Linked DNA regions of Homo sapiens. The protein of the gene in region 1 interacts with the protein of each later gene in a pairwise test. Each region holds a gene or a part of one and is shown on either strand. Other genes may lie near its edges.

The links.
Region 2: the proteins of ACY3 (region 1) and PMM2 interact in binary tests that used the Homo sapiens proteins (3 or more experiments, as listed by UniProt).
Region 3: the proteins of ACY3 (region 1) and AAMDC interact in binary tests that used the Homo sapiens proteins (3 or more experiments, as listed by UniProt).

The regions. Positions count from the first base shown.
Region 1 is NC_000011.10:67,640,349-67,647,730, forward strand, and holds the end of ACY3 (N-acyl-aromatic-L-amino acid amidohydrolase (carboxylate-forming)), read right to left. Parts: intron 7,276-7,382; exon of another isoform or gene 7,242-7,275; 5' UTR 7,168-7,241; intron 6,716-7,167; 5' UTR 6,696-6,715; coding exon 6,460-6,695; intron 6,114-6,459; coding exon of another isoform or gene 6,093-6,113; intron 5,540-6,092; coding exon 5,344-5,539; intron 5,033-5,343; coding exon 4,939-5,032; intron 4,805-4,938; coding exon 4,697-4,804; intron 4,522-4,696; coding exon 4,412-4,521; intron 2,592-4,411; coding exon 2,376-2,591; 3' UTR 2,207-2,375; downstream 1-2,206. Other genes in the region: T-box transcription factor TBX10, read right to left, coding at 254-413, 1,057-1,406. UniProt on the Homo sapiens protein: Plays an important role in deacetylating mercapturic acids in kidney proximal tubules. Also acts on N-acetyl-aromatic amino acids.
Region 2 is NC_000016.10:8,839,995-8,850,784, forward strand, and holds the end of PMM2 (phosphomannomutase 2), read left to right. Parts: intron 1-7,729; coding exon 7,730-7,831; 3' UTR 7,832-9,331; downstream 9,332-10,790. UniProt on the Homo sapiens protein: Involved in the synthesis of the GDP-mannose and dolichol-phosphate-mannose required for a number of critical mannosyl transfer reactions.
Region 3 is NC_000011.10:77,864,595-77,875,106, forward strand, and holds the end of AAMDC (mth938 domain-containing protein), read left to right. Parts: intron 1-5,127; coding exon 5,128-5,223; intron 5,224-7,557; coding exon of another isoform or gene 7,558-7,580; coding exon 7,581-7,721; 3' UTR 7,722-7,758; downstream 7,759-10,512. UniProt on the Homo sapiens protein: May play a role in preadipocyte differentiation and adipogenesis.

The DNA.
Region 1 (7,382 bases):
TCTAGCCCAGCCTGGAGAGCGGTAAGCCCATCCCGCCTGGAACTGGGGGCACTGCCCTGGCTGATGGTGTCCACGGAATCCCCATCTGGACATGAGTGGAAACGGTGAGGCTGGCCCAGGTGAGAAGTGGGCGTCCGCTCTGCCTGTGGGTCTGTCTGTTCTCTCTGGCCTGACCGGGCACCCTCTCCAGGTTGTCTACAGCCTGTGCTGGGCATTCAGGGGACACATGGATCACTCTGCAGGGAGGCAGAACCTGGAGGTCCCCCTGAGAGGCTGCCAGTTCCTTGGTTGAGAGTGCTCGCTGGCCTTTTGACTCTTGCTGAATGGCACAGAGTGGGTCGTCTGGCTGGAGCCCCCCATACCTCCTCCAGAATCCTGTCTTGGGGATGCTGGGTTGGCAGTGGCCTTGATTCCTAAGAGGGGGCATGGAGGGGCTGGGGGGCGGCAGGGCTGCTTCTCCCTGAGCGCTATGTTCTGGGCGCAGCTGCAGCTCAGGGATGCCTGTGGCTCAATCCCTTGTGTCTCACATCTCAGCCTGCAGAGCTGGATGGGACCCCACACAAAGACGGTGGGCTGGCTCTGGGGGATGTAAAAGGAGGAGGGCCGGCCCCTGGCCCAACCCCATGCCCGGCTGTGTGAGAAAAGGCTGCCAGCACTTTGGAGTTGCTGCCAGGCAAGATGGGAGTGCTCTGTGTGAGTTGGAGGGTCCCAGCAGCCCCTTGAGGCTATACAACAAGGTGTAGTCATCTGCCCTGGCCATGGCATGGTGGGTGGGAAGTGGGGAGATGATGGAGGGAGTTGGGGGATCCATTCCAGTACTGGTGGCTCCCCTTCACCGAGACACCCAGGGGAGGGCCAGGCTGGGATTGTAGTGGCCCCTGATACGTGTGTGTGTGCGATTTTGATCTGTGTGATGGGAAACAACCCCCCTCCCACACACACACACGAGCACACTGACATGCTAACCCACATGCACGCAGACACACGGATGAACTCAGAGCCTGCTGACTCGCCACATGGCGCACACACGTACAGCTTCTGTGCACATGGACTTACCACACAGCACGCGCACAGACACAGGCAGGCCTCCCTGCACACCCCTCCCCGGCTGGCCCGCCCGCCCTGCCTGCCCGAGGCGCCTGCTGGCCCCCTGCCCCCTCATCCATCTTGCCTGCCAGCCTGTCCCTGGTGCCCCCGTATCCTTCACACCTTCTCATATCACTGCTCAATACCAGGAGGTGGCGTGGCAGCCGTGGCCGCAGGGAAATGGATGGGCAGGGTGGGGGTGTAGAGGGCTGGGGGAGTGGCACTGCGAGGGGACTCTGGACTCCAGCAGCCCCAGATGTCCAACAAGAGTCCATTAGGCTCAGGCAGGTGCGGGCAGTGAGGCTGCAGCCAGGTCGCATATAGCCCTGCCTATTTGTCCTGCCATGACACCCTGAAGGGTGCCAGCATCAGGACAGAGGGGCCCTCAGCAGTGGGCCTCATGCCGGCTCGCCTGACATCAGTGCGCGGTGTCCTGGGGATGGCGGAAATGGTGGCTTCCCAATTAGAGCTGGGAAGTCCCTGTGCCCCAACCCAAGCCACCTCCTCCCTGCATCTCTGCAGTTGGACAGGCTGTCCTGCATGGGGACAGCCTTGTCCTGCTGTGGCCCTTCCCCCAGCCCTGACTCCCTGCTTGAGCCACTATGGGCACCGGGCTCATTACACACTTAAAAATGCACATCTGGCCACATAGAGATCCCCTTAGAACGCCCAAGGAACTGAGGCTCTTGGAAACACGTGTGTGTGGGAAACGCACAGACACGCACGCCAAAGAGCATCCAGGGCAGGCGCCATGCACGGACAAACACACATGTGTGCACAGACATGGGCCTGTCTCTGCGCTCCCCACACTCACTGTCTGGCCCCAGGACTATAGGAGGGTTGGGGGGTCCCCCTCTGGGTTGTAGCCTCCTCTGGAAGCCCCTCCGCTGGATCCAGAGCAATCCTTCTTCAGGTTCTCCTCCCACACTCTGGAATCCTCCCCCAGGCATGGATGGACAGCTGTGGGCACAGAGGCAGCCACCACTGGCCCCAAGACACTTGCAGGTCCAAGGCTGCACTGGCCAGACCTCCCCCAGATCCTGTGGTCAACCTCCCTTCCTCCATCCACTTCCCCAGCCAGAGAGGAGCCGTGCAGGACAGAGGACACAAACCATGGACCTCTGGACATCTTCCATTTTATAGAAAGGGAAATTGAGGCCAGGGGTTGGGGAGGCCTGGCAAGGAACATGGTGCATGGTAGGTGGCAGAAGGGACCTCTGTGCTCAGAGCTGTGCCTCAGGACCCATCGTTCAGATGGGAAGACTGAGGTTGGGGAGGTGTGTCTTGGGTTAGGAAGCTGGGCTCGGGGCAGGGGTCAGCGCGGGCATGGCAGGCACGGTGAATGTGAACTTCTCAGTCTGGACAAAGGCAACGCCCTTCTCATAGTAGGCAGCCTCGTTAATGAACACGGGGTACACCGTGGACTCTCCCTCATAGAGCAGGTCCTCCCCACTGAACATCTGGAAGATGGGAGCACCAGGCTGCAGTGGCTGGAAGTCTCGGTCCTGGGAGGAGAGCCAAAGGCCAAGATTGCTGGGGCCACCTCTGCCCTGGCCCCAGAGGGGGGTGACCCCAGCTTGACACCCAAAAGATGCCCCTCATTCATGGCTTTTCCCACCCATGCTTCACTTCCTTAATCCATATGACAGCAGGTCTGGTGAGATACCAGTCTGCTCTGTGTCTAGAAATGAAGACACAGGTCACCTTGGGGTGGCATGTGCCCATGTGGAAGTGGACCCTCATGGATACGGGCACAGGTATTGAAGCTGGAGTTCAAATTCTTGCTAGCTGTGTAACTGTGAGCAAGTCACTTAACCTCTGTTTCTCAGCTTTCTTGTCTGTAAAATAAGGATTACAATATCTCCTCCTATCATTCTGAAGTTTAGACTAAACAGGTTAATAGTGCTTACAGCAGTGTCTGGCACACGGTAAGTACAATATGATTCTTTATTAAATAAATTTTGGCTGGGCGCAGTGGCTCACGCCTGTAATCCCAGCACTTTGGGAGGCCAAGGCGGGTGGATCATGAGGTCAGGAGTTCAAGACCAGCCTGGCCAACATGGTGAAATTTCATCTCTACTAAAAATACAAAAATTAGCCAGGTGTGGTGGTGAGCGCCTGTAATCCCAGCTATTCGGGAGGCTGAGGCAGGAGAATCGCTTGAACTCAGGAGGCGGAGGTTGCAGTAAGCCAATATTATGCCACTGCACTCCAGCCTGGGCAACAGAGCGAGACTCTGTCTCAAATAAATAAATAAATAAATTTTAAGCCTGGGCACAGTGGCTCATAATCTCAGTGGCCTGTAATCTCAGCACTTTGGGAGGCTGAGGTGGGCAGATCACTTGAGGTCAGGAGTTCGAGACCAGCCTGGCCAACGTGGTGAAACCCTGTCTGTACTAAAAAGACAAAAATTGGCTGGGTGTGGTGGTGAGTGCCTATAATCCCAGCTACTGGGGAGGCTGAGTCAGGAGAATCGCTTGAACCCAGGAGGCAGATGTCACAGTGAGTTGAGATCGCACCACTGCACTCTAGCCTGGGCAATGAAGCAAGATTCTGTCTCAAAAAATAATAATAAAAAATAAAATAAATTTTAAAATTGTAGGAGGAGCCACCCAAATTGACTGTTATGACTGAACGTCTGCAAGGTAGCTGGGCACGGCTGGATTAAGACTGTCTAGCCCTAAACATGGACGGGATGGTGCTGCCTCCATTTGTAAGAAGGTAACTCCTCAAAATGAAACTTCAGGGCACAAAAGGCCACAAGATTGCACCAGACCCTATTCAACAATGACCCCCTGTGGCAGCAAGCAGAGCAGCAGCCAGTACGTTCTTCTCAGGCACCCAAGGGAAAGGTGTGGAAGCAGGATTGCCTAATCCTGGAACATTCAGGAAGGGAAGGCCTGCAGAGAGACATACTGCCAACATGCATGGGGATGCTCGAGGAACCAATTGAAAATCAGAAGAGAGTTTTGTATTTGCACCTCCAAGCAGGTGAATTGAGTCATGCCTGCTCCATGTCCCCTCCCTCTGCCTTTTACAGCCAGGGTAGGGTTGTCTCCATCATGCCCTCCACAGGAGCTATGGGGATCACTGTGGCCTCTTGTGCTAGGCCTGAGTGTGGGGTTCCAGGGAAGGCAGCAGGGCCAGGGGAAGTGGGATGGCGGAGCCCAGCCTCCCATCCTGCTCCTCAACCCGAGATGCTGGTGAGCTCGTGGGAGGCTTGGCTGCACCCCCTGGGGCTCAGTTTTCCTTGACAATCCTCCTCCCCAAGGCTGTGGCCCCAGAAATCACCCCCCACCACACACACACACACACACACACACACCTGCAGCTGAGGATGCACAGTGCCTGCCAGGTGCCCGGCCTCGGTGCGGGGGAAGTCCACGACGCCCACGGGTCTATAGGCTTCCATCTCAAAGGCAGGAAAGGCCGTACCTGTGTGGGAGGCTGGGTGTGTGAGCCCATCCCTCCCTCCAGGCTAGGGGACAGACTGGGCCGTGGGGGTACGTCAGGGCTAGATCCCAGCCTGCCTGTGAGCCTGGCTCCCCAACCCCTGAGCCAGACCTGCTCTTCCCCGGACCTGTTTCCCGAAAGTCCCCTGGGGTCTCACCCTGGTTGAAGAGTTCGATGAAGTCCAGAACTGTGGCCACCAGGGTCCTCATCCTTGAGAAAATGTCAGCCCGCAGCACACCCTGTGGCTGGGGGCCCAGCTCCAGACCTGGGGACCAGGAAGCAAGGGGTTAGGCAGGTGCAGGACCCATATACTCCTTGAAGAGGCCCTGCCCCTTGGTGACTGGACCCGCCCCTCCAGCCCTCCTGGCCCCGCCCACTTCTCAGAAGGCTGCGGCCCACCCAGTCCATTTTTGGCCACAGAGTCCAGGTTGTAGCTCTCCTCCCCAGACCGCTGGTACAGGAAGACCTGGCAGGACAGCTCGGGGTACTGCAGCTGGGGGCGAGAGAGGCAGGTTAGGGGCCCAGGCCTACTTGGGAAGGGAAACTGAGGTGGGAAGGTGTTGCATGGAGGAAACACAGGGCACCACCCTCCTTGGCCAGGTCTCCCTCTACCCTCTGGCAGGGTAGGGGAGGGGGTACCGGGGGCCTGGAGTGCTGGCGAGTGGCAGACCCCAGGGACTGGAGCCCAGGGGAAACTAGGCCCGGGGAAGAGGGGCTAAGCAAAGGAGGTTCCAGCATTGTCCCGCCTGCCCTCCCTCCCTCCCACTCCCCTCTGGGGAGCTGTGTGCTTGGGGCCGGGGCCACCTGCAGATGGCGGCACAGGTGCATGGCAAAGACTTCGTGGGAGGACTTCGCGATTAAGCAGGTGCCCATGTTGGCCGTGGTGTTGTGCAGGTCAAGGACAAAGTCAAAGGCCTGGCCCGAGGCCTTGGGCCCCAGCAGCTGGTTCAGCTCTCGGGCTCTTGTCACCTCATATGGGTCGTCCGGGGTGGGCCTGGAACTGTGGAGACGGGAATGGGGGACACCGATCTTCACAGTCTCAGTCAGTCTTCAGTGGTTTAAGGGGAAAGGGGCAGGGGCCCTGCAGGAGCCACTCTGAGCAGCTCGAGCGAGGGCTTTCCCTTCAGACGTTGTGGCTGTGTCCACCCCTGCCCGTGGCCCTCTTGGCTCTGCACTTCCCGGTAAAATCCAAGCTCTCAGCCTGGCCCGCCCTCCCACCTGCCTGCCCACTTGCCTGCCTCTCATGCCCTCATTCCAGCCACACTGCCTGAGCACCATGCTGGTCTCACCCCCAGGCCTGTGCTGTGCTTGGCCCTCCAGTGGAAACTCCCTCTCACCTCTCTTCCCCTGGCTAGCTTTTAGTCAGCCTTTGGGGCTTGGCTGAGACACCATTGCCTCCAGGAAGCCTTCCCTGACTGCTCTCAGCCAGGTTAGCTGCTTTGTGTAGCCTCCGGCCCTGCCTTTAGCCCCCTGGGTTATGGTTGCCCGGTTCTTCCTCTGTCTCCCCATTAAGCTTGAAGCCAACACCTTGGTCCTATTCCCCATTCTCTCACCTGAGCTGGCCAGAGCCTGGCCTGGAGATAGGATGCAGTGACTATTCATTGGAAGGAGGCATGAACAGTGATCAGGGCACACGACAAGTAAACATGGCCTGTGGGGCTAATCTGAGGGAAGAATTAGGTCTGGGATCCCCAGAAGAGGTCCTGAACCAACTTGCAGTCAGGAAGGCCTTCCTGGAGGAGGTGACATCAATCTTGGTTTCTCTAAATGTTCGGTTTGTCCCGTGGAGGAATGGGCCACATAGGCAGAGGGGAAGCAGGAGTGAAGGCAGGGAGGGCCCTGCTGGTGGCGGGAGGGAAGTTTTGTGGTGGGGACTCGGTGCCCAACTGCCTGGGCCAACCTGGCGGCAAAAGCACTCACTTGAGGAAGCTGCTGGTGAAGGTGCGGTTGAGGTCATGGTCCACGTAGCGGCGGCAGCCGGATGTGGCTGCCGGGTTGGCCAGCACAGGCACAGCGGAGAAGCTGGCTCTCTGCAGCTCTGCGGGGGCATGCAGCCAGTGCCGGGCCAGGTAGACGCCCGACATCTCGTTGCCATGCGTGCCCCCAGTCACAGCCACGCGACGCAGGGGCTCCCGGGGCACAGGCAGTGAGCACATGCTGGTGTGGGGTGCAGAACCTGGGGGTGGGCATACTTAGGAGACCCTGGCCCCGATGCAAGGGATCTGGGCTCAGGGCAAGGATGGCGGTGGGAGGCTCCACAGGGCAGCCACCTGTCAAGAGGTGTGGACAGCTGGGAGTGTCTCAGCTGTGTCCCACCTGCACCCCCAGTGGCCCTTTCTCTGAGGAGACAATTTTCCTGCTCCTTTGGAGAAAAGAAGTTTCTTTTTCCTAAATTGAGAAGAGGGGCCCAACTGTTCAGGAAGATGGGTTCACCAAGGCACACTCCCTATAGGAAGAGGACTGCGCTCCTTTTTATAGACAGGGAAACTGAGGCACAGCGTGGGGAGTGGAAAGTGTCACCAGAGTTAGCTGTGGAGTGTCTGGGTTCTAGGCAACAGCCTCGCCTTCCTGCCCCTCCTGCTTGCTCCTCCCAGCTGGTGCAGGGGTCTCAGGTCAGGGGGTACTTACCGCTGATGCGGATCTGGGCTTCCCGGGCCACCAGGACTGGCGTCTAACTCGCAGACAGGCTGGTATTCATGGGCCTGGAGATCCACAGATGGGAAGTTTTGTGGCAAGCTGGCAGACAGCAGGGGGTGGGTGGGACGGGCTGAGGTTCATGCAGCCAAAGGTCGGAGTGCTGGGGTCTGCTCCACTGCTCCTGCCCCGCCCGCCCCACGCTGCTA
Region 2 (10,790 bases), on another chromosome or scaffold:
GTAAAGGTGAGGGCTGTTACAGGAAGTTCGGAGGTGTAGGGAGATGGGAGATGTTGCCCAGTCTGTCTGTAAGGTGGGGACAGCTGTGTAGGCACTGGAAGAAAGGGAAATGCAAAGCCAGCAGTTGTTCACTAAGGAGGGATTAGAAGCGGCTAGGAGAGAATGGGTAAGGTTGATAGTGTGGTGGAGATAGCTGGGGAGAGGTAGAGGGTGGCATAAGAATGGGAATGAGAATAAGAGTGAGTATAAAAGTAAAGAATAGAACTTCATCAGGGTGGAAATATTGGAGGGTGCCTTGCCAGCAAAGATCATCTATCCACTCTAAGAGGGAGTTAAGAGTGGCAGTTTGGGGATAGCACCAAGAGATATCAGCTGTGATGGCTTGAAGAAACAGTGTAAACCGGCCGTGTAAACAAGAGTAGGGCATTTATAAGTAGTTGAGAATGGAGAATAGGAGTATGACCAGACAGAAGATAGTAGGGATGACTAGTTTTTTGGGGCTCGGCCTAAGTGGTGGGGGTGACTTCGTAAAGCCCTGTTGCAAAAAGTAGGGTAAGGACGAAAAACCTAATAGAATGAAGGGATGTATTAGGCTCATAAGGGTTATGACTGTTCTTCGAAATACGACTGAGTTTAAGGGAAGTAGGGGAGAGTACTTGCAACTTCCAGGAGGAAGAGGAGGGATTAGGCTGGCTGTCCGATGGACACAGCTTTATTCTGGAACGGTGAGCCTAGTGGGGAGGATCCTGCAGGCGGACAGCAGTCGGGGTACTATAGATGACTAAGTAGGGTCCGGTCCATCGAGGTTGTAGAGTTTGAGGAGTCAGATTAACAAGAACTGATCGTCCAGCTAGGGTGTCTTCATATGGCTGGGGATCTGGAGTAGGCAAGAGAAGCTTAGCAGCCTGGCGAATTTCCTGTCTAGCCTGCTGGAGGACTGGAAGACAGTCGCCTAGAGGGCTGGTGTCTGGGATGAGGTTGGGGCCAAGCAAGAAAGTGCGTCCATATAAAAGTTCAAATGGACTGTACCTACCCTGTAGCATCTCGAGAACAGGCTCTAATTCTGAGAAGAGCAAGAAGTAAAAGTACTGTCCAATCCTTTTTAAGTTGGAGGCTGAGCTTGGTGATGTGTACCTTTAAAAGACCATTAGTCCGTTCTACCTTTCCTGAAGATTGAGGACTGTAAGGGATATGAAGGTTCCACTGAATACTAAGAGCCTGAGAAACTGCTTGGGTGATTTGACTAGTAAAGGCTGGTCCGTTATCAGACTGTATAGAGGTGGGAAGGCTAAACTGAGGAATTATGTCTGACAGAAGGGAAGAAATGACTGCGGTGGCCTTCTCAGACCCTGTAGGAAAGGCCTCTACTTATCTAGTGAAAGTGTCTACTTAGACTAAGAGGTATTTTAGTTATCTGACTCGGGGCATGTTGAGTGAAGCTAATTTGCCAGTCCTGGGTGGGGGCAAATCTTCAAGCTTGATGTGTAGGGAAGGGAAGGGGCCTGAATAATCCCTGAGGAGTAGTAGAATAGCAGATGGAACACTGAGAAGTTATTTCCTTGAGGATAGATTTCCACGATGGAAAGGAAATGAGAGGTTCTAAGAGGCGGGCTAGTGGCTTGTACTATAGCATAGCCTGCCTTTGCTGCTATGTGGCGATTAGGCCTGGTGGAACCGCCATCAATAAATCAAGCGTGATCAGGGTGAGGAACAGGAAAGAAGGAAATATGGGGAAATGGGGTGAATGTCAGGTGGATCAGAGAAACACAGTCATGGGGGTCAGGTGTGGTATCAGGAATAATGTGGGAGGCCAGATTGAGGTCCGGGCCAGGAACAATGGTAATTGTGGGACTTAACAAAGAGTGAGTACAGCTGAAGGAGCCGGGGAGCAGAAAGTATATGCATCAGGTATGAGGAAGAAAATGGATTTTGGAAGTTATGAGAAATGTAGAGAGTGAGTTGAGCATAGTTTGTGATTTTTACGGCCTCTAAAAGTATTAAAGCAGCGGCAGCCGCTGCACGCAGACATGAGGGCTAGGCTAAAACAGTAAGGTCAAGTTGTTTGGACAGAAAGGCTACAGGGTGTGGTCCTGGCTGTTGTGTAAGAATTCTGACCGCACTAACCATGCCTAGGAAGGAAGGGAGTTGTTGTTTTGGAAGGGATTGAGGTTTGGGAGATTAATCAGACAAGATCAACAGGCAGAGCACGTGTGTTTTTATGAGAATTATGCCGAGATAGGTAACAGATGAGGATGAAATTTGAGCTTTGGAGGGGGATACCTGATATCCTTTGGAGAGTAAATGCTGAAGGAGCAGAAGTGTGTCTTGTTGAGAAGATTCAAAGGAGGGGCTACAAAGAAGAAGGTCATCAATATATTAAATAAGGTGAGAAGCGGAGGGGTGGAAAGAAAGTAGATCATGAGAAAGAGCTTGGCTGAAGTAATGAGGGCTGTCCCTGAAACCTTGTGGCAGCACAGCCCAGGTAAGCTGCTGGGACTGATGGGTGTCAGGGTCAGTCCAGGTGAAAGCAAAGAGAGGCTGGGACAAGGGGTGCAGGGGAACGCTGAAAGAAGCATCTTTAAGATCAAGTGTGGAATAGTGAGTTGTGGAGGAAGGTATTGAGGATGAAAGAGTGTATGGGTTGGGCACCACAGGGTGGATAGGCAAAACAATTTGGTTGATAAGGCGCAGATCCTGAACTAATCTGTAAGACTTGTCCGGTTTCTGGACAGGTAAAATGGGGGGATTATAAGAAGAGTTTATAGGTTTTAGAAGCCTATGCTGTAGCAGGCCAGTGATAACAGGCTTTAATCCTTTTAAAGCGTGCTGTGGGATGGGATATTGGCGTTGAGCGGGGTAAGGGTGATTAGGTTTTAATGGGATGGTAATGGGCATGTGATCAGTTGTCAGGGAAGGAGTAGAAATGTCCCATATTTGTGGGTTAAGGTGGGGGGATATGAGAGGAAGACGCAAAGGAGGCTTTGGGTTGGGGAGAAGGGCGGCAATGAGATGCGGCTGTAGTCCAGGAATAGTCAGGGAAGCAGATAATTTGCTTAAAATATCTCGGCCTAATAAGGGAACTGGGCAGGTGGGGATAACTAAAAATGAGTGCTTCAAAGAGTAATGTCTAAGTTGGCACCAGAGTTGGGGAGTTTTAAGAGGTTTAGAAGCCTGGCCGTCCATACCCACAACAGTTATGGAGGCAAGGGAAACAGGCCCTTGAAAAGAAGGCAACATGGAGTGGGTAGTCCCCGTTTCGATTAAACAGTGGGTGGACTTACCCTCCACTGTGAGAGTTACCCAAAGCTTGGCGTCCGTGATGGTCTGGGGGCTTCCAAGGCGATTGGGCAGCGTCAATCTTCAGCCGCTAAGCCAAGGAGTCAGTCAGAGAGCCTTGGGCCAGAGTTCTAGGGGCTCTGGGAGTGGCTGCCAGGTGAGTTGAACAGTCCGATTTCCAGTGGGGTCCCGCACAGATGGGACACGGCTTAGGAGGAATCCTGGGCTGCAGGCATTCCTTGGCCCTGGTAGTCAGATTTCTGGCACGTGTAGCAAGCTCCTGGGGGAGGAGGTTCTGGAGGAACGCCTGGCCGCTGCGGTTCAGGCATTTGGAAGTTCTTGTGTGCTGGAGATGTGGCTGGGGTTTGTCTCACAGTGGAGGCAAGGAATTGCAACTTTTTTCTATTATTGTACACCTTGAAGGTGAGGTTAATTAAGTCCTGTTGTGGAGTTTGAGGGCCAGATTCTAATTTTTGGAGTTTTATTTAATGTCGGGAGCAGATTGGGTAATAAAATGTATATTGAGAATAAGACGGCCTTTTGACCTTTTAGGGTCTAGGGGCTGAGGAAGAATTGGAACCTAGCTCGGCCTGGCGAGGAGGGGAGAGGTCAGATGGGTCTGTAGAAAAGGAAGATTAGAAAGACTCAGCAACGCTTGGGGTTGGGACTGAGGGGACAGGCGGGAGGGAAAGAAGGAAGATTTGGGACGAGTTGCACTGGGCACAGAGACTAGGAAGGGACTGATGTGTAAAAGAATGCCTGGACATCAGGCACCTCAGACTGTTTGCCCATTTTACGACAAGAATTATTTAGATCTTGCAGGATGGAAAAATTGAAAGTGCCGTTTTCTGGCTATTTGGAACTACTGTCGAGTTTGTATTGGGGTCAAGCGGCATTGCAGAAGAAAATAAGGCATTTATTTAGGTTTTAGGTCAGGTATGAGTTGAAGAGGTTTTAAGTTCTTGAGAACACAGGCTAAGGGAGAAGAAGGAGGAATGTAGGAAGGTTGCCCATAGTGAAGGAGGCAAGCCCAGAGAAAAGAGAGCGTAGAGACATGGAGGGAAGGGGTTTGGGGGTTCTTACCCTCCAGAAAAGCGGGAAAGGGGTTGGGGCATGGAAATAAGGGATTGGGGCACAGAGATACGAGTTTGGGGTACTTGCCTCTCCCCCAGAAAAGCGGGACTTGCCGCTAAGGGTGAAGGAGAAGGGGTTGGGGGGTTCTTGCCCCTGCCCCAGAAAATCAGAGAAGGGGTAGAGACACGGAAAGAAGGGGTTGGGGTCCTTGCCCCTTCCTCAGAAAAGCGGGACTTGCCGCTAAGGGTTATGGACCAAGGCAGGTGTCCCTGCGTGGTCTGACACCTCTGAAACGTGGGTGAATGATCAGAGGCGTCCTTGCAATGATTAAACACCAAGGGAAGGCTGCCTTCCCAGTCCGTGACCGGCGCCGGTTTTTTGGGTCCACAGATAAAACGTCTCCTTTGTCTCTACCAGAAAATGAAAGGAATTGAAATTAAGAGAAGGGAGAGATTGAAGTGTGGCGCCTAGATTGAAAGGAGAAAGACGGTGAGGGATAGGGAGGTTGGAGAAGAGAGTAAAAAGAGGCTGCTTATTGGATTTGAAATTGGTGAGATGTTTCTTGGGCTGGTGGGTCTGAGGACCTGAGGTCGTAGGTGGATCTTTCTCATGGAGCAAAGAGCAGGAGGATAGGGGATTGATCTCCCAAGGGAGGTCTCCCGATCTGAGTCACGGCACCAAATTTCATGCGCGTCCATGTGAAGAGACCACCAAACAGGCTTTGTGTGAGCAACATGGCTGTTTATTTCACCTGGGTGCAGGCGGGCTGAGTCCGAAAAGAGAGTCGGCAAAGGGTGGTGGATTATCATTAGTTCTTATGGGTTTTGGGATAGGCGGTGAAGTTAAGAGCAATGTTTTGCGGGCAGGGGTGGATCTCACAAAGTACATCCTCAAGAGTGGGGAGAATTTCAAAGAACCTTCTTAAGGGTGGGGGAGATTACAAAGTACATTGATCAGTTCGGGTGGGGCAGAAACAAATCACAATGGTGGAATGTCATCAGTTAAGGCTATTTTTACTTCTTTTGTGGATCTTTAGTTACTTCAGGCCATCTGGATGTACACGTGTAAGTCATAGGGGATGCGATGGCTTGGCTTGGGCTCAGAGGCCTGACAGTAGGTGTTCTAGAAAGGTGTGTTGTGTTAATGTGTGAATACTGACTCCCCTCCTCAGTCACTGAGGCGGGGAGGGTGTTTGGCTCTTTTGAGGCATGTGAGAGTTGGTTGTGCCTTTGGTTTTTTGTTTGTTTTTTTTTCTTTTGAGTCTCGCTCTGTTGCCCAGGCTGAAGTACAGTGGTCTGTTCTTGGCTCACTGCAATCTCCGCCTCCCAGGTTCAAGTGATTCTCCTGCCAAGCAGCTGGGATTACAGGTGCGCACCACCACACCCAGCTAGGTTGTGCCTTTGTTAGGTTCTCTGTGACTTTTACCCACTGTGCCATTCCTGAAAGAAATCTTTTTTTTTTTTTTTTTAATTAGAAGAATTACTGGAACTAGCTTGGCACTGTTGGACACAGTCTTTGTCTCAGCTACTCGAGAGGCTGAGGCAGGAGGTTCGCTCGAGCCCAGCCTGGGCAACATAGCAAGACCCTATGTCCGAAGGAAAAAAAAGGCAAAATCAGAATTACCAGAACTGATTTCACATGTGTAGGTAGCAGATGGTGGCCATGCAATTCAGGTCTGTCTGAAGGCCCCCAGGCCTGGTACAAAACTGTGTAAGGCCAGTACAAGGCCCTGACAGGTTCCCAAGTGGCTGGACTGGAAGAGATGCCAAGTTCATGGCCTCCTAACCTGACTCCACCCAGCACTCCCTGGGCCCAGCGACGTTCCCTCCTGAAGCCTGAAATTCACCTCCACCTGAGGAGGCCATCTGCCTGGGGATAGGTTCTTGCAAAAATGAAAACACTCATTTCCAGAGGCAATTAATTCTTTTAAAGGATGTCAGATTTTTGGTACAAAATCATGGTTTCCACGTTGGCTTCATGCTCGGTGCTTTATGAGAAAAATCCCTTTTTTCTACGGTTGTGTTCATTGTATTGTAAAGCAATCGTAGATTATTTTAAGGTTTTGAGTTAGAGTGATTATCCAATTTTATGAGGGAAATAAAGGAATTCCATGAGAAAAACGGGGGCTTTCCTGCAGGGCTCGGGGTTGCGGGAGCGGCAGATAACCTGATTCATTAACGTGAGCCCAGTGGGATTGGTGGGGGTGATGGGGACACAGATGGGAGCACTCAACTCAGGCACAGGACCCCAGCAGAACATGCCCAGGTCCTCCTAGACATGGGCCCTTGCAGACTTTCTGAGGCCTCGGTTTCGTCATCTTACCAAGGTGTGACCCCAACCATCATCTCCTGAACTTCTGGCCACAGAGCTGTGAGCAAGCTTCCATCATGACCCCATTTTGGAGATGGGGAGTTGGCGCAGCCACACTGCTGCTCAGTGGTAGAACCAGCATCTGACCCAGGCCACCTGTTCCAGAGACCCTGCTTTTAGCCAGCAGCTCAGACCCCAGTCATGTGGGGCCATTTATTTATTTATTTAAGATAGAGTCTCCCTTTGTCGCCCAGGCTGGAGTGCAGTGGTGCGATCTCGGCTTACTGCAACTTCCACCTCCCGAGTTCAAGCAATTCTCCTGCCTCAGCCTCCCGAGCAGCTGGGATTTCAGACGTGCGCCACCATGCCCAGCTAATTTTTGTATTTTAAGTAGAAATGGAGTTTTGCTGTGTTAGCCAGGTTGGTCTCAAATTCCTGACCTCAAGTGATCCACCCTTCTCAGCCTCCCAAAGTGCTGGGATTACAGGCATGAGCCACCATGCCCGGCCCACGTGGGGCTGTTTAAATTAAAATCAAATTAACTGAGTTCCTCCATTGCATTGGCCACGTTTCAAGTGTGCAGAGTGACACATGGCCAGTGGCTGCCATCACCGCTGATGTCGCCACGTCCCTCATCACAGGAATATCCCTGGCAGCCCTGCTCCCGGCCCTCTGCCCTCCTGACGCTCCCTTGTGACTTGTTAGAAAAGCGTAGGTACAGCTAAAAAAAAAAAAAAAACTGATGGCTGTGAGAATACTGTCACTCGCTGATGCCTTCTGTGTAGAAAAATAAGCCTTAGACAGATCTTCGCAAGAACATCGTGATGGCTCTCATAGGCATAATTACGTGTTCCAAGCCAAATTGCAGTTCAAGAGAAGGTTATAAATCTCTTCTTAATAACAATTGTACTCACGTTCCTCTCCTGGAAACTAAGAGGAAGGTAGCTGAAGAAACTCTCCCTGCCCAGTTAAATCTTGTTTTTTGGGTACTTTTGGACTCCAGGGTCACATCAGCAATGGCCCGGGACAGACGAGGGGGAGCCTTCATCTGTACTTCGTGTCTTTCCAGGGTGGCAATGACCATGAGATCTTCACAGACCCCAGAACCATGGGCTACTCCGTGACAGCGCCTGAGGACACGCGCAGGATCTGTGAACTGCTGTTCTCCTAACGTGGGAGCGGGAGGGGCGGGGTCCCGGCTGACAAGCCAGCATAGGGCATTCGGTGGCCAGAGCCGAGGGTCCTCCCACACGTGCTCACCCACCCGCAGCCTAGGCAGGCTCTGCATGCTATGCCAGGCATGTGCAGTCTGGACTTCCACCTCCAGTGCCAGAAACTTCCAGAAGGAAGGAGAAAACTCTTGTCAAGAATGGCCCAGAGGAATGCCTCGCACAAAAGGTCTTCCCCACCCACCCCCAGCCCCCTAGTCTAATACCCACCCTGATACGTGCAATCATGTAGTTTTGGCGGAAATTTCCCCATCATTCTAGGATGATACAGAAAGAAAAACTGTGCCTGGACCCTCCCTCTTGGTGGGTCTGTGGAAACATAAGCGGTTTTTTTAATGGGCCCCTGCATCAATACCAAACATGGGGGTTTGGTAATGAGAAACCAGGACAGGCCATCTGCAGTGACCCAGCCCAGGACGAAGTTTACAAACACCTCCTGGAACGAAGCTCCCGCCTGCATGTCACCTTGATGGGGGCTGTGAGTGGGGCAGTGTGATACCCAGTGACTAGACGCACTCTGCGTTTTCCCGTGTTTGGGGCTGAGGCCTGCTGGACAGATGGCTGGCCAAGTGGGAGCAGACCCTAGGGAGTTTGCACCTCGGCTGGGCCGGATTCGGACCGGCTCTGTGTTCACTACACTCAGAATAGCCTGGCTGCTTCTCTGTCTCCGAGACCGGAGGTAGTGGGAACCAACAGCTGGGCTGGAGAGTTGGTGCTGGCAAAACAGTCCTTGCCCTGGGGCCGGTTCTTACCCAGGTCCAGAGAAACCAACGCGGGATGTCAGACTTCACCAAAAGGACTTTCTGGTTGCCCCTGGCTGGCTTCCTGGAGGCGTTCGCCTCTAGTTTCTCAGGGATGGAGCGAGAGCCCAGCCAGAGAACAGTAAGAGGAGCTGCTCTCCTATCTGCACTCACCCAGGCCTTCACCCAGACTTTACCACGGAGGCGGCTGAGTGCAGCTACAGCTAGGTCCGCGTCCCTCACTCTTTTCATCTTCTGCACGTTCTTCGTGAAACTGGAAGGATCCCGGGTCTCAGCTAGAACACGGTGGAAGAGAACTTTCCTAGGAAACGGTTCATGTGTCACTTTTCAGGATGTGGAAACACTGAGCCATACACCCTCCATTGCTTGGTGCTGGGGTTGTGTGGCCTCCACTGGGCACTTGCCGACCTGAGTCTGGGGCCAGGGGAGCCCAGGCTGCCCTGCACTCCTGCCTCCCAGCCCACAGCCAGGTGCTTTCATCACAGCTAAACCTGGTTCCCTCCAAACCTCCCAGCCACTCGGGCTTGTAACTGTCTGAGCCCCGGATCCGGTGGGGTGAAAGCAGCCAGCTCATCCCAGTGACTCACAGGACACAGCCATCCAGCGGCATCTTTCCTTGTCGAATGATACTGTAATGACCTTCCAAAGTGAAGAGTAGCACATTAAAGTGATTTTATTGTTTCCTGTTTCTCATTCCGATTTCTTTTTCCTCCTATGTTCCCAGATTCTGGAATGGAACCCCAGCCCTTCCAGGTCTGAGAGCCACTCTTTCTTTACTCTGGATTTCTGTCACATCGGGGGCCCCTCCCTCTGCGGAGTTGCATGTTGCTGTTCCTGATGCACAGACTCCTCCCCCGCTGCTTTTCTGCCCACTGGGTCAGGATCTGCCATTCTTTACAAGTTTCCTTAACGTATTGCGTCAAAGCGAGACAACCGAGTCTTACTCAAACTTGTTTTAACCGGAGATGGAGGGTTGCTGCTGTGTCACCGCCTGCACAGGGCTGCCCTCAGGTGAGTACCCCGAGTCTGCCAGGCTGGGTGCTGATGCGCGGAGGTTTGGGCCGTCCCTGCCCCAGTTCCCACAGTGGCTGCTTGAGACCCTCCCCAGGCCCCTCGAGCCCCTCCTGCACTGTCTGCTGCCTCCCTTCTGCAGTCAGAATTGACACTCCCCTTCCACCTTCTTTGTCATCACATTGCATCCCAGGCCAGCTTCCTGGGGCTTACTCCAAGGGCATCGGCTTGCCCCGCACTGTGGTGGGATGTAAAGTGATAACAGCTAAACGACGCATGCACAACATGTCCTGGTGCCTTCTGCGTGACCCCAGAGCAGCAGGTTCTGCACATGGCAGGTAAGAGCACAGCTGCCAAGACCCCAAGCCTAGTTCTGCTGCTACAAGCTGCTGCGTGACTTAAGGTGAGTTCATCTTCGCCTCAGTTTCCTCCTCTGTCAAATGGGATAGTCCTTACCGTGTATGGAATTTAAAGCACTTTGAACAGTGAGTGTGAGCCATTACTAACTCAAGTAATACCCCTTCCCAACCCAGAACCCTATAAGGCAGGGACAGTCAGTCCCTCTCTCTGCTTTAGGGGGTTGCAGGATAAAGACACCGTCACAAGAAATTTAAACACAGTAGGTAAATTTTGAGCCACAGCAAAGCACAGAGGTTGCATCCAGGCCAGCTTAGCACTGTTGAAAGTCACCATCCCCAGCACTGCAGAAGCTGACCCTGAACTCAAGGTCACCCAGGGCTTAAGCCTCAGAGAAAAGGCCTGGGTTGAACCTGAGCAGTGGGTGAGTGCAGGGCAGGCCTCTGGCTCCCTGGAGGGAGAGGCTAGCCAGGAAGTTGAGCTTGAACCTGATCCCGAGGGAGAGGTGTGGGGCATGCTCATGATCTGTCCGGGAAGGTCTCTCCAGCTACTGGAAGGGGAGTGCCCACAGGGGCCAGGAGAAGGCAGTTGGGCAGATGTTGCCGTAGTCCGGACACATCCAGGCATACGTGGTTTTGAATCACTTCCTCTCCAAGGGCTGCTGCTTCCTCTCCACCCCTCCCAAGTGTTCTGGCTCTGGGCCCCAGCTGGCCACCTCAGCCCAGGCAGGCTCCTCCAACCTGAACGACAGGCAACCTCCACGCTGCCTGCC
Region 3 (10,512 bases), about 10 Mb from region 1:
GGAAGCAGCAACTATGAAATTGACATAGAAGGAATAGTAGATACTTGTCTCCTATCTCATGTACAATCCAGGGCATATGTTCCTTGAATAGAATGACTGAATTGCCAGGCACAGTGGCTCACACCTGTAATCTCAACACGTTGGGAGACCAAGATGGGAGGATTGTTTGAGCCTAGGAGTTCAAGACAAGCCTGGGAAATATAGAGAGACCTCGTTGCTACAGAAAGTTAAAAAATTAGCCAGGCATGGTGGCACATCTGTATTCCCAGCTACTTGGGAGGCTGAGGTGGGAGGATCACTTGGGCCTGGGAGATTGAGGCTGCAGTGAGCCCTGATTGCACCACTGCCCTCCAGCCTCAGTGACAGAGTGAGACCCTGTCTCAAAAACAAAAAAGAATGACTGAATTACTCTATTTCCATAGTTCTTACTCTCTCCTTCTCTGGACCCATATAGTTGAATTCCCATAAGGTAAAGGCCCCTATAATATGTCTCCCTTGTATATATTTTGCAAATTAGACACAGTGTCTAATGTGGTTGAGTCCCCAACATTCATTCTACTGCACATGATTTGCCTAACTAGTCATGGTTTAGTTTAGTAATGGATTACTTAGCATGATTACTTAGTGTGAAGGCCAAGGTGTTGTAATAGAAATCTCAAAATTCAGTAGCATAAAGAAGATAGAAGTGTCTTTCTCTCATAAATTATTGTGGCCAGTCCAAACTGGTGGTAGGGTGGGAGAGATGTGGATAGCACAATTTCATTTAGGGGCCTAGGTTTTTTCTTTCTGTTGCTCTATCATCTCCTAGAACATTTGAATTGTAGGAACCGGTTGTAGGCATGGCAGGGCTCTAACTTGCAAGGAAGAGGAAAGAGAAGAAAAGCTCATGCCAAACCTATATATGAAATCATTTCTTCTGCTCATGTTCCATTGAATTTTATATTAGTGATAGCACAGTCACATGACCACATTTAACTGCAAGAAGTACAGAAAACGGAGTGTCTAGCTTATCAGCTATATGCCCCAGAAAATGGGCAGAATGGATTTTGAAAGAACAACTAGTCATCTGCCATTATGAGATGGGAGGGTAAGTTGGCTAGCAGACTTTTGGAAAAGATTTCCATTTTCCTAAACTAATAAAGAAGCACATATAATACTAGACCAAAAGTTTGTTGTTAATATTTTGATAATTCCACTTGTATGAAATGTTTCCTCTATAATCTTACATATCTTCTTTTGTGTATTCTAAAACATTATTCTGAGAAGGGGACCATCGGCCTCAATAGACTGCCAGAGGGGCCTGTAGCACAAAAACAGGCCTCTGCCCTGGCAGAGGCAGCAAGATTATTTAACAGCCTGTTAATTCAGACAAGCAATAATGAGAATGTGACTCAGGCAGTGTCCACAGGGGATAGATTCCAGAGATCCTTTAAACTTCACTCACAGAATCTGCTTTTATCAGCAATACAGCCAGATGATAGCATTGCTACTACCCATTTATGCTCACTTAATTTTGGCAGAAGGAAATACTTCTTTGGAAGAGTAGTTTAGGAATGTTTTCTTTTTAAAGTTAGCATGAAATAGGGAGAAATGTTCAAGACAGACAGGATGCCATCTTGTTGTTTAGCTGGCATAATGGATATTAGCTGGACATTTTTCCACAATTAATAGCTTCCCCCGCAGAAAAAACAATAAGCTTTTACCACCTTAGATCGTGTGACAGAAAGCCTCTTAAAGTAGAGGAACAGAATCAGACACTCAATAGGAAGAAGAGCCTTAGTGATTTGCCCTGAGGGATTGGAAGCAGCACAGGAATTGCTAGTGGCAGGTTGAGGATGCCTCAATAATAGTCTCAAGCTCCAATCCCATGGATCCACAGGCCCTTGCAGAGTTATCTTTCATTGCTTTGTACATGACACTGTGAGCCTGCAGTAAAGCAGCAGCAGCCCAGTTCATCACTTGAGTTCCATTGATCCAGCCACTCCAATGGGCTGTGGCTGTCTCCAGTCTAATCTCCAGAGGATTATGGGTTTGTAGTCTCCTATGACCTTACACTTGGATTTCCAGCAGTCAGTGGCCTCTTGTTTCATTTTACTAGAATGTGAGCTCTGGGTGAGAGAGTGAGACTCCATCTCGAAAAAAAAAATATTAAAAAAAATAAAACTGCACATGTAAATATGTAAGACATTATTATTACAGGATTTAATGAAAACTCATATTCATCCTCCCCATACGTTTCTTTTTTTTCTTTTTCCTTTTTTTTGAGACAGAGTTTCGCTCTTGTTGCCCAGGCTGGAGTGTAGTGGCACAATCTCAGCTCACTGCAACCTCCACTTCCTGGGTTCAAGTGATTCTCCTGCCTCAGCCTCCTGAGTAGCTGGAATTACAGGCGCATGTCACCACACCCGGCTAATTTTTGTATTTTTAGTAGAGACAAAGTTTCACCACCTTAGCCAGGCTGGTCTTGAACTCCTGACCTCAGGTAATCCTCCCTCCTTGGCCTCCCAAAGTGCTGGGATTACAGGCATGAGCCACTGTGCCCGGCCCCCATGCCTTTCATAAATATATAAATTTCATTCCTATCTCCATAACGTCTCATCTTCCTGAACTGGAAAACGCTTCTTTCTCTCGCCCATTTGTTATCTCTTTGATAATTTCAACAGCTCTTTTCCTATACCATCTCTACCATTAGAAGGTACCCCTTCTACAACCACTGCATTCAAGGCCTATTCATTTTCATACTTCGAGACCCAGTTAAAACAGCATGTCTTCCATGACAGTTTCCCACTTGGGTTTATTCACTCTGTCTTCTGAGATCCTCAACTCCATTTCTTCTCATCCTACTACAAATATTTGCACATTTTCACTAACCTTACCTGAATGAAACTCCATGGAACATTTGGTTCATCTCAGTATTGCTACTGCTTAGAAATACTGAGACTTGGCACAGAGTTAAGTTCTCAGTAAATGCTGGATGAATGAATGAAAGGATAGAGGTATATGGGTCAGGAAAGGAATGCTTTGTCTTTGGGAGCTTCAGTGCTAAAAGCATTGTCCTTGTGCAGAAACATAACAGGTGGAGCCCAGTAGGTTGGGCTGGTAGTTCCCAAACTCTAACTCCCATATCCCCTTTGCTGACACAGAGGTAGTTCAAGAAGCTACCATCCTTTAATGCTCAATTCATCTTTGTTAAACACATCACCTTAAATGTGCCTAGAAGACTGGGAAGACTTTTCAGAGTGATTGGTAGGTTTTAAAGCATAAAAAGAAGTTTCCTGGAGTTAGCTGGGAAGATTAGGAAGTTCAGAAAAAAAGTAACAATATAGAGATTGTTATGAAATTTTTCTAAAGTCAAAATTTTAGCATGCTATGCAAGTGCTTTCTTTTCCCACCTCATCTGTCACTCTACAAACAAGTTGTACTGACTTTAACTGTTCTTCTAGTCTTTTTCTTTCCTCTGAGCCTTTTTTTTTTTTTTTGAGACAGAGTCTCGTTCTATCGCCCAGGCTGGAGTGCAGTGGCACAATCTTGGCTCACTGCAAGCTCTGCCTCCCAGGTTCACGCCATTCTCCTGCCTCAGCCTCCCGAGTAGCTGGGATTACAGGCACCCGCTACCTGGCCCGGCTAATTTTTTGTATGTTTAGTGGAGACGGGGTTTCACCGTGTTAGCCAGGATGTTCTTGATCTCCTGACCTCGTGATCCACCCGCCTCAGCCTCCCAAAGTGCTGGGATTACAGGTGTGAGCCACCACGCCCAGCCGCCTTTTTTTTTTTTTTTTTTGAGATGAAGTCTTGGTCTTGTTGCCCAGGCTGGAGTGCAATGGCGTGATCTCAGCTCACTGCAACCTCTGCCTCCCAGGTTCAAGTGATTCTCCTGCCTCAGCCTCCCGAATAGCTGGGACTACAGGCACGCGCCACCACACCCAGCTAATTTTTGTATTTTTAGTTGAGATGGGGTTTCGCCATGTTGACCAGGCTGGTATCAAACTCCTGACCTCAGCCTCCCAAAGTGCTGGGATTACAGGTGTGAGCCACCATACCTGGCCACCTTTTTTTTTTTAATGTACAGTCCAGAGGTTTTTGTTGTTGTTGTTGTTGTTGTTGTTTTTTAACACAAATTATGGCGTGAATTCACAGGGAATAGGCTCCAGCAACTCAGGCTCCTTCCCACTGGTTCTTACACAGTGTGCTTCTCTGGGTGTAGCAGGCTGGCGCTTAATTTGAACCCGGGTACCTTTCTCTCTGGCTTCCTTCTTTTACTAAACATTTTCCTTCACACATTTCAGGAAGCTCTATTGGCTCTTAGTGTGCTTAATGTGCTCAATAGGCACAATTCTCTTGGCAAGAATCTGGCCTGTAACTTATTTGTTTACAACAATGCCAACAGCACGTTGGGTAATACCGTAGACTCTTCCAGTTTTGCCATGGTAACATTTGTGGGACATTCCTTTTTGAACAGTACCCATTCCCTTGATGTCTACAGTATCACCTGTCTCATAGATTCACATGTACCATGTGGCCAAAGGAACAACTCCATATTTTCTAAAAGGCCTAGAGGACATATATTGGGTGCATCTCCTCTTTCCCTTTGTATTTGTCATTTTGGCAAATTACTGGAAGATGGTTGTTCCAGCCAAAAGGTCCTGAGCCTTTTAAAATGCTTTTTCCTGTACTTGGAATGCCTTGTTTCCCGGATTTCGTTTATTTATCTCTTTTTCTTTTTTTTTTTTTTTTTTTAGATAGGGTCTCACTGTGTTGCCCAGGATGGAGTGCAGTGGTGCAGTCATGGCTCACTGCAGCCTCGACCTCCCAGGCCCAAGCAATCCTCCCAACTCAGCTCTCCTGAGTAGCTGGGACTACAAGCATAAGCCACCACACCCAGCTAAGTTTTTATTTTTTGTAGAGACACGGTCGGTCTCCCTATGTTGCCCAGGCTGGTCTTGAACTCCTAGGTTCAAGGGATCCTGCCTCGTCAGCCTTCCTAAGTGCCTTAAAGAGCCTATGAGTGATGCTTGGCACAAAGTGAACCTCAGTAGACATTTCTTGAATGAATGAATCCCACAAGAATGCCTATTGCAATGAAAGATTGAGAGCAGGTACCTGTCTACTTTCTCTTTCCACATCCAGCATTCTCCTGGTGTGCAGCCTGCAGATGTGAAGGAAGTTGTTGAGAAGGGTGTACAGACTCTTGTGATTGGCCGAGGGATGAGTGAGGCCTTGAAGGTAGGTGTTGGTATGCACAGCATTCCTGAGGACAGGTGGGGATCTCTTGGGCCTTTGTCTTACAGACTTGTCCTTCTTGGGAGGTCATCTTTATATATCATGTACCCTCATTTTGCTGACCCAGGATAGCAGTGGCTGCACACATTCCTCTGCCTCATCAGCGTTGGGCTCTCCAGTCTACCTAACCCTGAGACAGTGTCATTTCAACTATTTCTCAGAATCCCTCAAGTTCTACAAGGATCACTATTTGGTCCTTTATATTTTAATAATACTTTATATCCTCATAGTATATTTTATAGTACTTCTAATTTTTCTTTTATTGGACACATTTATAGTTTTCCCCTCTTCAGAAAAAAATTTAATTTAATTTTTTTTTTTTTTAAATATAGATGGGGTCTCACTATTGTTGCCCAGGCTGGTCTTGAGCTCCTGAGCTCAAATGATCTCCCGCCTCGGCCTCCCAAAATGCTAGGATTACAAATGTGAGCTACCACGTCTGGCCTATTTTTTAATTTTTTTTTTTTTTTTTTTTTTTTTTGAGACGGAGTCTTGTTCTGTCGCCCAGGCTGAGTGCAGTGGCGCCATCTTGGCTCACTGTAACCTCTGCCTCCCGGGTTCATGCCATTCTCCTGTCTCAGCCTCCCGAGTAGCTGGGACTACAGGCGCCCACCACCACGCCTGGCTAATTTTTTTGTATTTTTAGTAGAGACGGGGTTTCACCGTGTTAGCCAGGATGGTCTTGATCTCCTGACCTCGTGATCCACCTGCCTCAGCCTCCCAAAGTGTTGGGATTACGGGTGTGAGCCACCATGCCTGGCTTATTTTTTAATTTTCTTACAGAAATAATATATGCTCATTGTAAAAGATTTAAAAATTCAATGCAGAAATGTAGAAGTAAAAAGGTGGGAGATTCCCTTCCCAATCTTCACATTTGATGTATATTTCTCCAGTCTTCTCTGAATGCATCTGCAAATATATACACACTTACACATATAGATATACGTTTATATACTTATAACCATTTTACATAAATAGGTCAGTGCTATATGTATTCTATAACTTTTTCCCCCACTTACATTACTGTATTATGGATAGTCATCCATATAGAGGCCTACCTCATTCTTTCCTTTATAGATGTCTTACAGTCCTGTTCCTTACTGATGAAGGTGCCCCTTACATCTAGGGCTTTATATATATAGGGCACCTTCATCAGTAGGGCTCAAGCAATCCTCCCATTTTGGCCTCCTGAAGTGCTGGGATTAAAGGCTTGAGCCACCATGCCCAGCCTATTTATATTTTAAAATTTTAAACTAGTTTGTTTTCCCCATTACAATAATTCCTATCTGATAGGGTACTTTTATAAATCTCAAATATATAGAAAATATAGGGCATATTAAAAAATATTTCACTTGAGTTCTTTCTGAGGCAGAGTCTAATTAAAATCTATTTTTAAAAAATATTCAGGACAAGCCAGAGTTGAGAAAATATCTAATAATAGCTGTCACTATTAAGAACATCTTTTATATAAATTCATTTACAGATATTTATTAAGCATTTTCTATGGGTAAGGCACTATTCTAGAAACTGGTGACGGTGCGATAAACAAGACAAACAAGGTTCATGCCCCTCATGGATAATAAAAAACTAGACAACTTCAGATAATAATAAACGCAGTGAGGAAAATGGTGACTTATGCTGGGCTAGTAGGGGGTGGGCAAGAAAGGCCTTTGTGAGAAGACATTTGAGCTGCAGTGTACATACATGAGTCAATTTCATCCTCACACCAACCCTGTGATGTAAGTACTATTATACCTATTTTACAAGGGAAGAAATTGGGGCTGGGAGACTTTAAAGAGCTAGCCTAACATTTCTTAGCTAGCATGCGGCAAAGAAGAAATTTAGACTCAGTTTAGACTAACTCAAACATTTAACATTTATGGAGTTTGCACACCAAGGTAGATGTTTCACATACCCTTAGCTCAGTTAGTTGTCATACCAACCCTAGGTGTTAATGTCCCTAATTTACAGACATGAAAACAAAGACTCAGAGAATTTAATTTACTTACCCAAGGTTACAGTGCTAGTAAGGATGTAAATCCAAGGCTAACTGCAAATCCCATGTTCTTTCATTTCCATTTCACTTGAGCTTTATGCATGGGTATTATGATACCTCTGACAAAGAGGCCTTTTTGACTCATTGGGGCTCACTGCCAAATTTTGGACTGGTGATACACTGAGTGATCGTGAAGTGACGATTGTCACTGTCTAATTCTGTAGAGTACACCTGCCTCATGGCAGTAAAGGAACCCCTGGGGGGCCTTTCCCCCTACTTACTCATCTCTTTTCCACCTTCCCAGGTGCCTTCATCAACTGTGGAGTACCTCAAGAAACATGGCATTGATGTGCGGGTCCTCCAGACAGAGCAGGCAGTGAAGGAGTATAATGCCTTGGTTGCCCAAGGGGTCAGGGTGGGAGGTGTCTTCCATTCCACCTGCTGATGGAGCCTTAAGAGGAGAATAAATCACTAAGTGCCTATGCCTGTGACTGTCACTCACCATTCTCCAAACCAGCCTCCCCTAAACATTTTTGGACACCTACTCATGCCAGGTCCTGTGCTAGGCTCTTGGGATGCAGGGATGACCAAGACAAGGTCCCTGTCCTTGAGGGTGCTAAAAGAAAAAAAGATGAGACAGAAGTTTAATAATATAGTGAATGAACTGAGGGAACATCTGAGTAACAGGAACAGTAGGAGTATGCCCTGGGAGTTGGGTTCTAGACAGGCTGTTCTACTAACCAACCCTGAGACTGGAGCCAGATTGTTCTCTCTGGGCTTCAAATTTCAACTATAGGCCAGGCGCCATGGCTCACGCCTGTAATCCCAACACTTTGGGAGGCCGAGGTGGGCAGATCACTTGAGGTCAGGAGTTCAACCCCAGCCTAGCCAACATGGTGAAACCCCATCTCTATTAAAACTACAAAAATTAGCTGGGCATGGTGGCACGAGCCTGTAATCCCAGCTACTTGGGAGGCTAAGGCAGCAGGAGGATCACTTGAACCCAAGAGGTAGAGGTTGCGGTGAGCCGAAATGGTGCCACTGCACTCCAGCCTGGGTGACAGTGAGAGACTCCGTTTCAAAAAAGAAAAAATTCAAGTATAAAATGTTGGGGCTGGCTAGATGCCCTTTAAAGGTTCCTACTGGCTCAGATAGTCTTTGTTCTATTAAATACCGAGGTGGCCTTTGTGAAGCCTTAGAATAGACTGAGAGAACTACAAGCTATCAGCATCACCTTATTTTTAATTTTTCTTTCTTTTTAAAGAACTATGGGCTTTGGTGTCAAATAGCCTTGACTTTGAACTGCAGCTCACTGCCACTCACTGGTTGGGTATTTGTCTAATTTCTTAGTTTCACTGTTCTCATCTGTCAGATCAGGATAACATTAGCAGTACCTGGAGTCATTGTAGGTATTAAATGAGGCAATTCATAGAAAGTATTAACTCACTGCATGGCATTTAGTAAGGACTCAATACATTAAACCACTGTTGTCCTTATCTTTCTATTAATGGGGATACTGTGTAAAGCCAACTAGTTTCATTTTATGGTTCTTAATATAGCAGCTTATTATTTCAAAGAGCCATAGAATGTTGGAGCCCAAAGGAACTATCTCACTCATTTATTCAGTAATTCTCTTTCATATCCATTTACGGACAGCCTATTACTAATTTTCTTATGACCAGTTATTGTTGGGCCCTGGGGGAATAAGGATGAATGTTACAATTCCTGCCTTTGGGAATTATGTTGTATGAGAGAAAGACAAATAAGTAAACAATAATGATACAATGTTAATATTATAATAGTTACTAGGTCCAGTGGTGGCACAAAGAAAAGACTAATTTATCCCACTAGGATGGAAGGAAAATTAAGGAAGACATCACTAAGGAGATGACATTTAAGCTGAGTCTTAAAAAATGGAAGGTTCATTAATTCACTGAAAAAACACTTACTTGGCAGCTCTTTTAACTAGACATTTACTAGGTATGGTATTTATCACAGCCATAACTAAATAAAATCGCTCCACCCCAGCCATCACTGGAGCAGCAGCAGTGGAAAGATGATTTTTGCTTCACATGATCCTGCCACCTGACTACGTAGTTAGTTAGGCTTCTGACCTACAGGGACCAATCTATAGACTGGACAGCAACTTAAGATGTGGCTTGGCAAGAAAAGCTGAAACAGTATGGAAAGTGAAGGGATTTATTTTTTTCCAAGTTCTCCAAGTAAGTGGCAGACGTAGGATTAGAACCCAGCACTGTGTCTTTATCAGTTTATGGCATACACCTCCTTGCTCCCTAGAAGCAGACGGGAGTGAGTGCTTCACAGACCCGACACCCAGCATTGAAGTCTCGGAAGGATCTGCTTGGTGCCCTTTCCGCAGCCCTTTCATTTGTCAGATGACAGATCTTTCTAGATCTGTTCCCTTGGCTCATAAAGCCAGCCCTCTGTATAGCTAAGAAGGATGTTTGATAAAATTCAGACTGTTTCTCTAGTGATGCAGTCTTTTTTTTTTTTTTTTGGTCAAATGTAAGGTGAGACAGCTCTGGTGGGTGTTGAATTCAGTGTGGGTGTAATCATTCTTCCTAAGTGAGTTGTCTCCAATTAAAGAGAACTTAGTGTAAACTTCTTAGAGACAGAAGTATCTGTCAGTGACATTATTAAACTTTTAAGAAAACCTGCTAATACATAGCCCCTACTTTGGAACCTGGTGCACATGGTTAACGATGGAAATATGTAGAGCTTGAAGGGAAGCTGTTTCTCCACATAACTATACTTAGTCCTCTGTCTTAAATCATTAAAGCCTCTGAGTTAGTTTGTAGGTAGAACAGCCCTCAAGCTGCCCACAGGTCATTTCTTCTAGCCTGAGTGGTTAAGACAAGAAGTTGGCCGGGTGCGGTGGCTCACGCCTGTAATCCCAGCGCTTTGGGAGGCCGAGGTGGGCAGATCACCTGAGGTCAGCAGTTCGAGACCAGCCTGGCCAACATGGTGAAACCCCATCTCTACTAAAAATACAAAAATTAGCCAGGCGTGGTGGCACGTGCCTGTAATCCCAGCTAGTCTACTTGGGAGGCTGAGGCAGGAGAATCGCTGGAACCAGGGCGGCAGAGCCTGCTGTGAGGTGAGATCGTGCCACTGCACTCCAGCCTGGGTGACAGAGCAAGACTCCATCTCAAAAAAAAAAAAAAAGACATGAAGCTGGCCACAGCTAGGTGTGTACCTTTCTTCTCCATGATTGT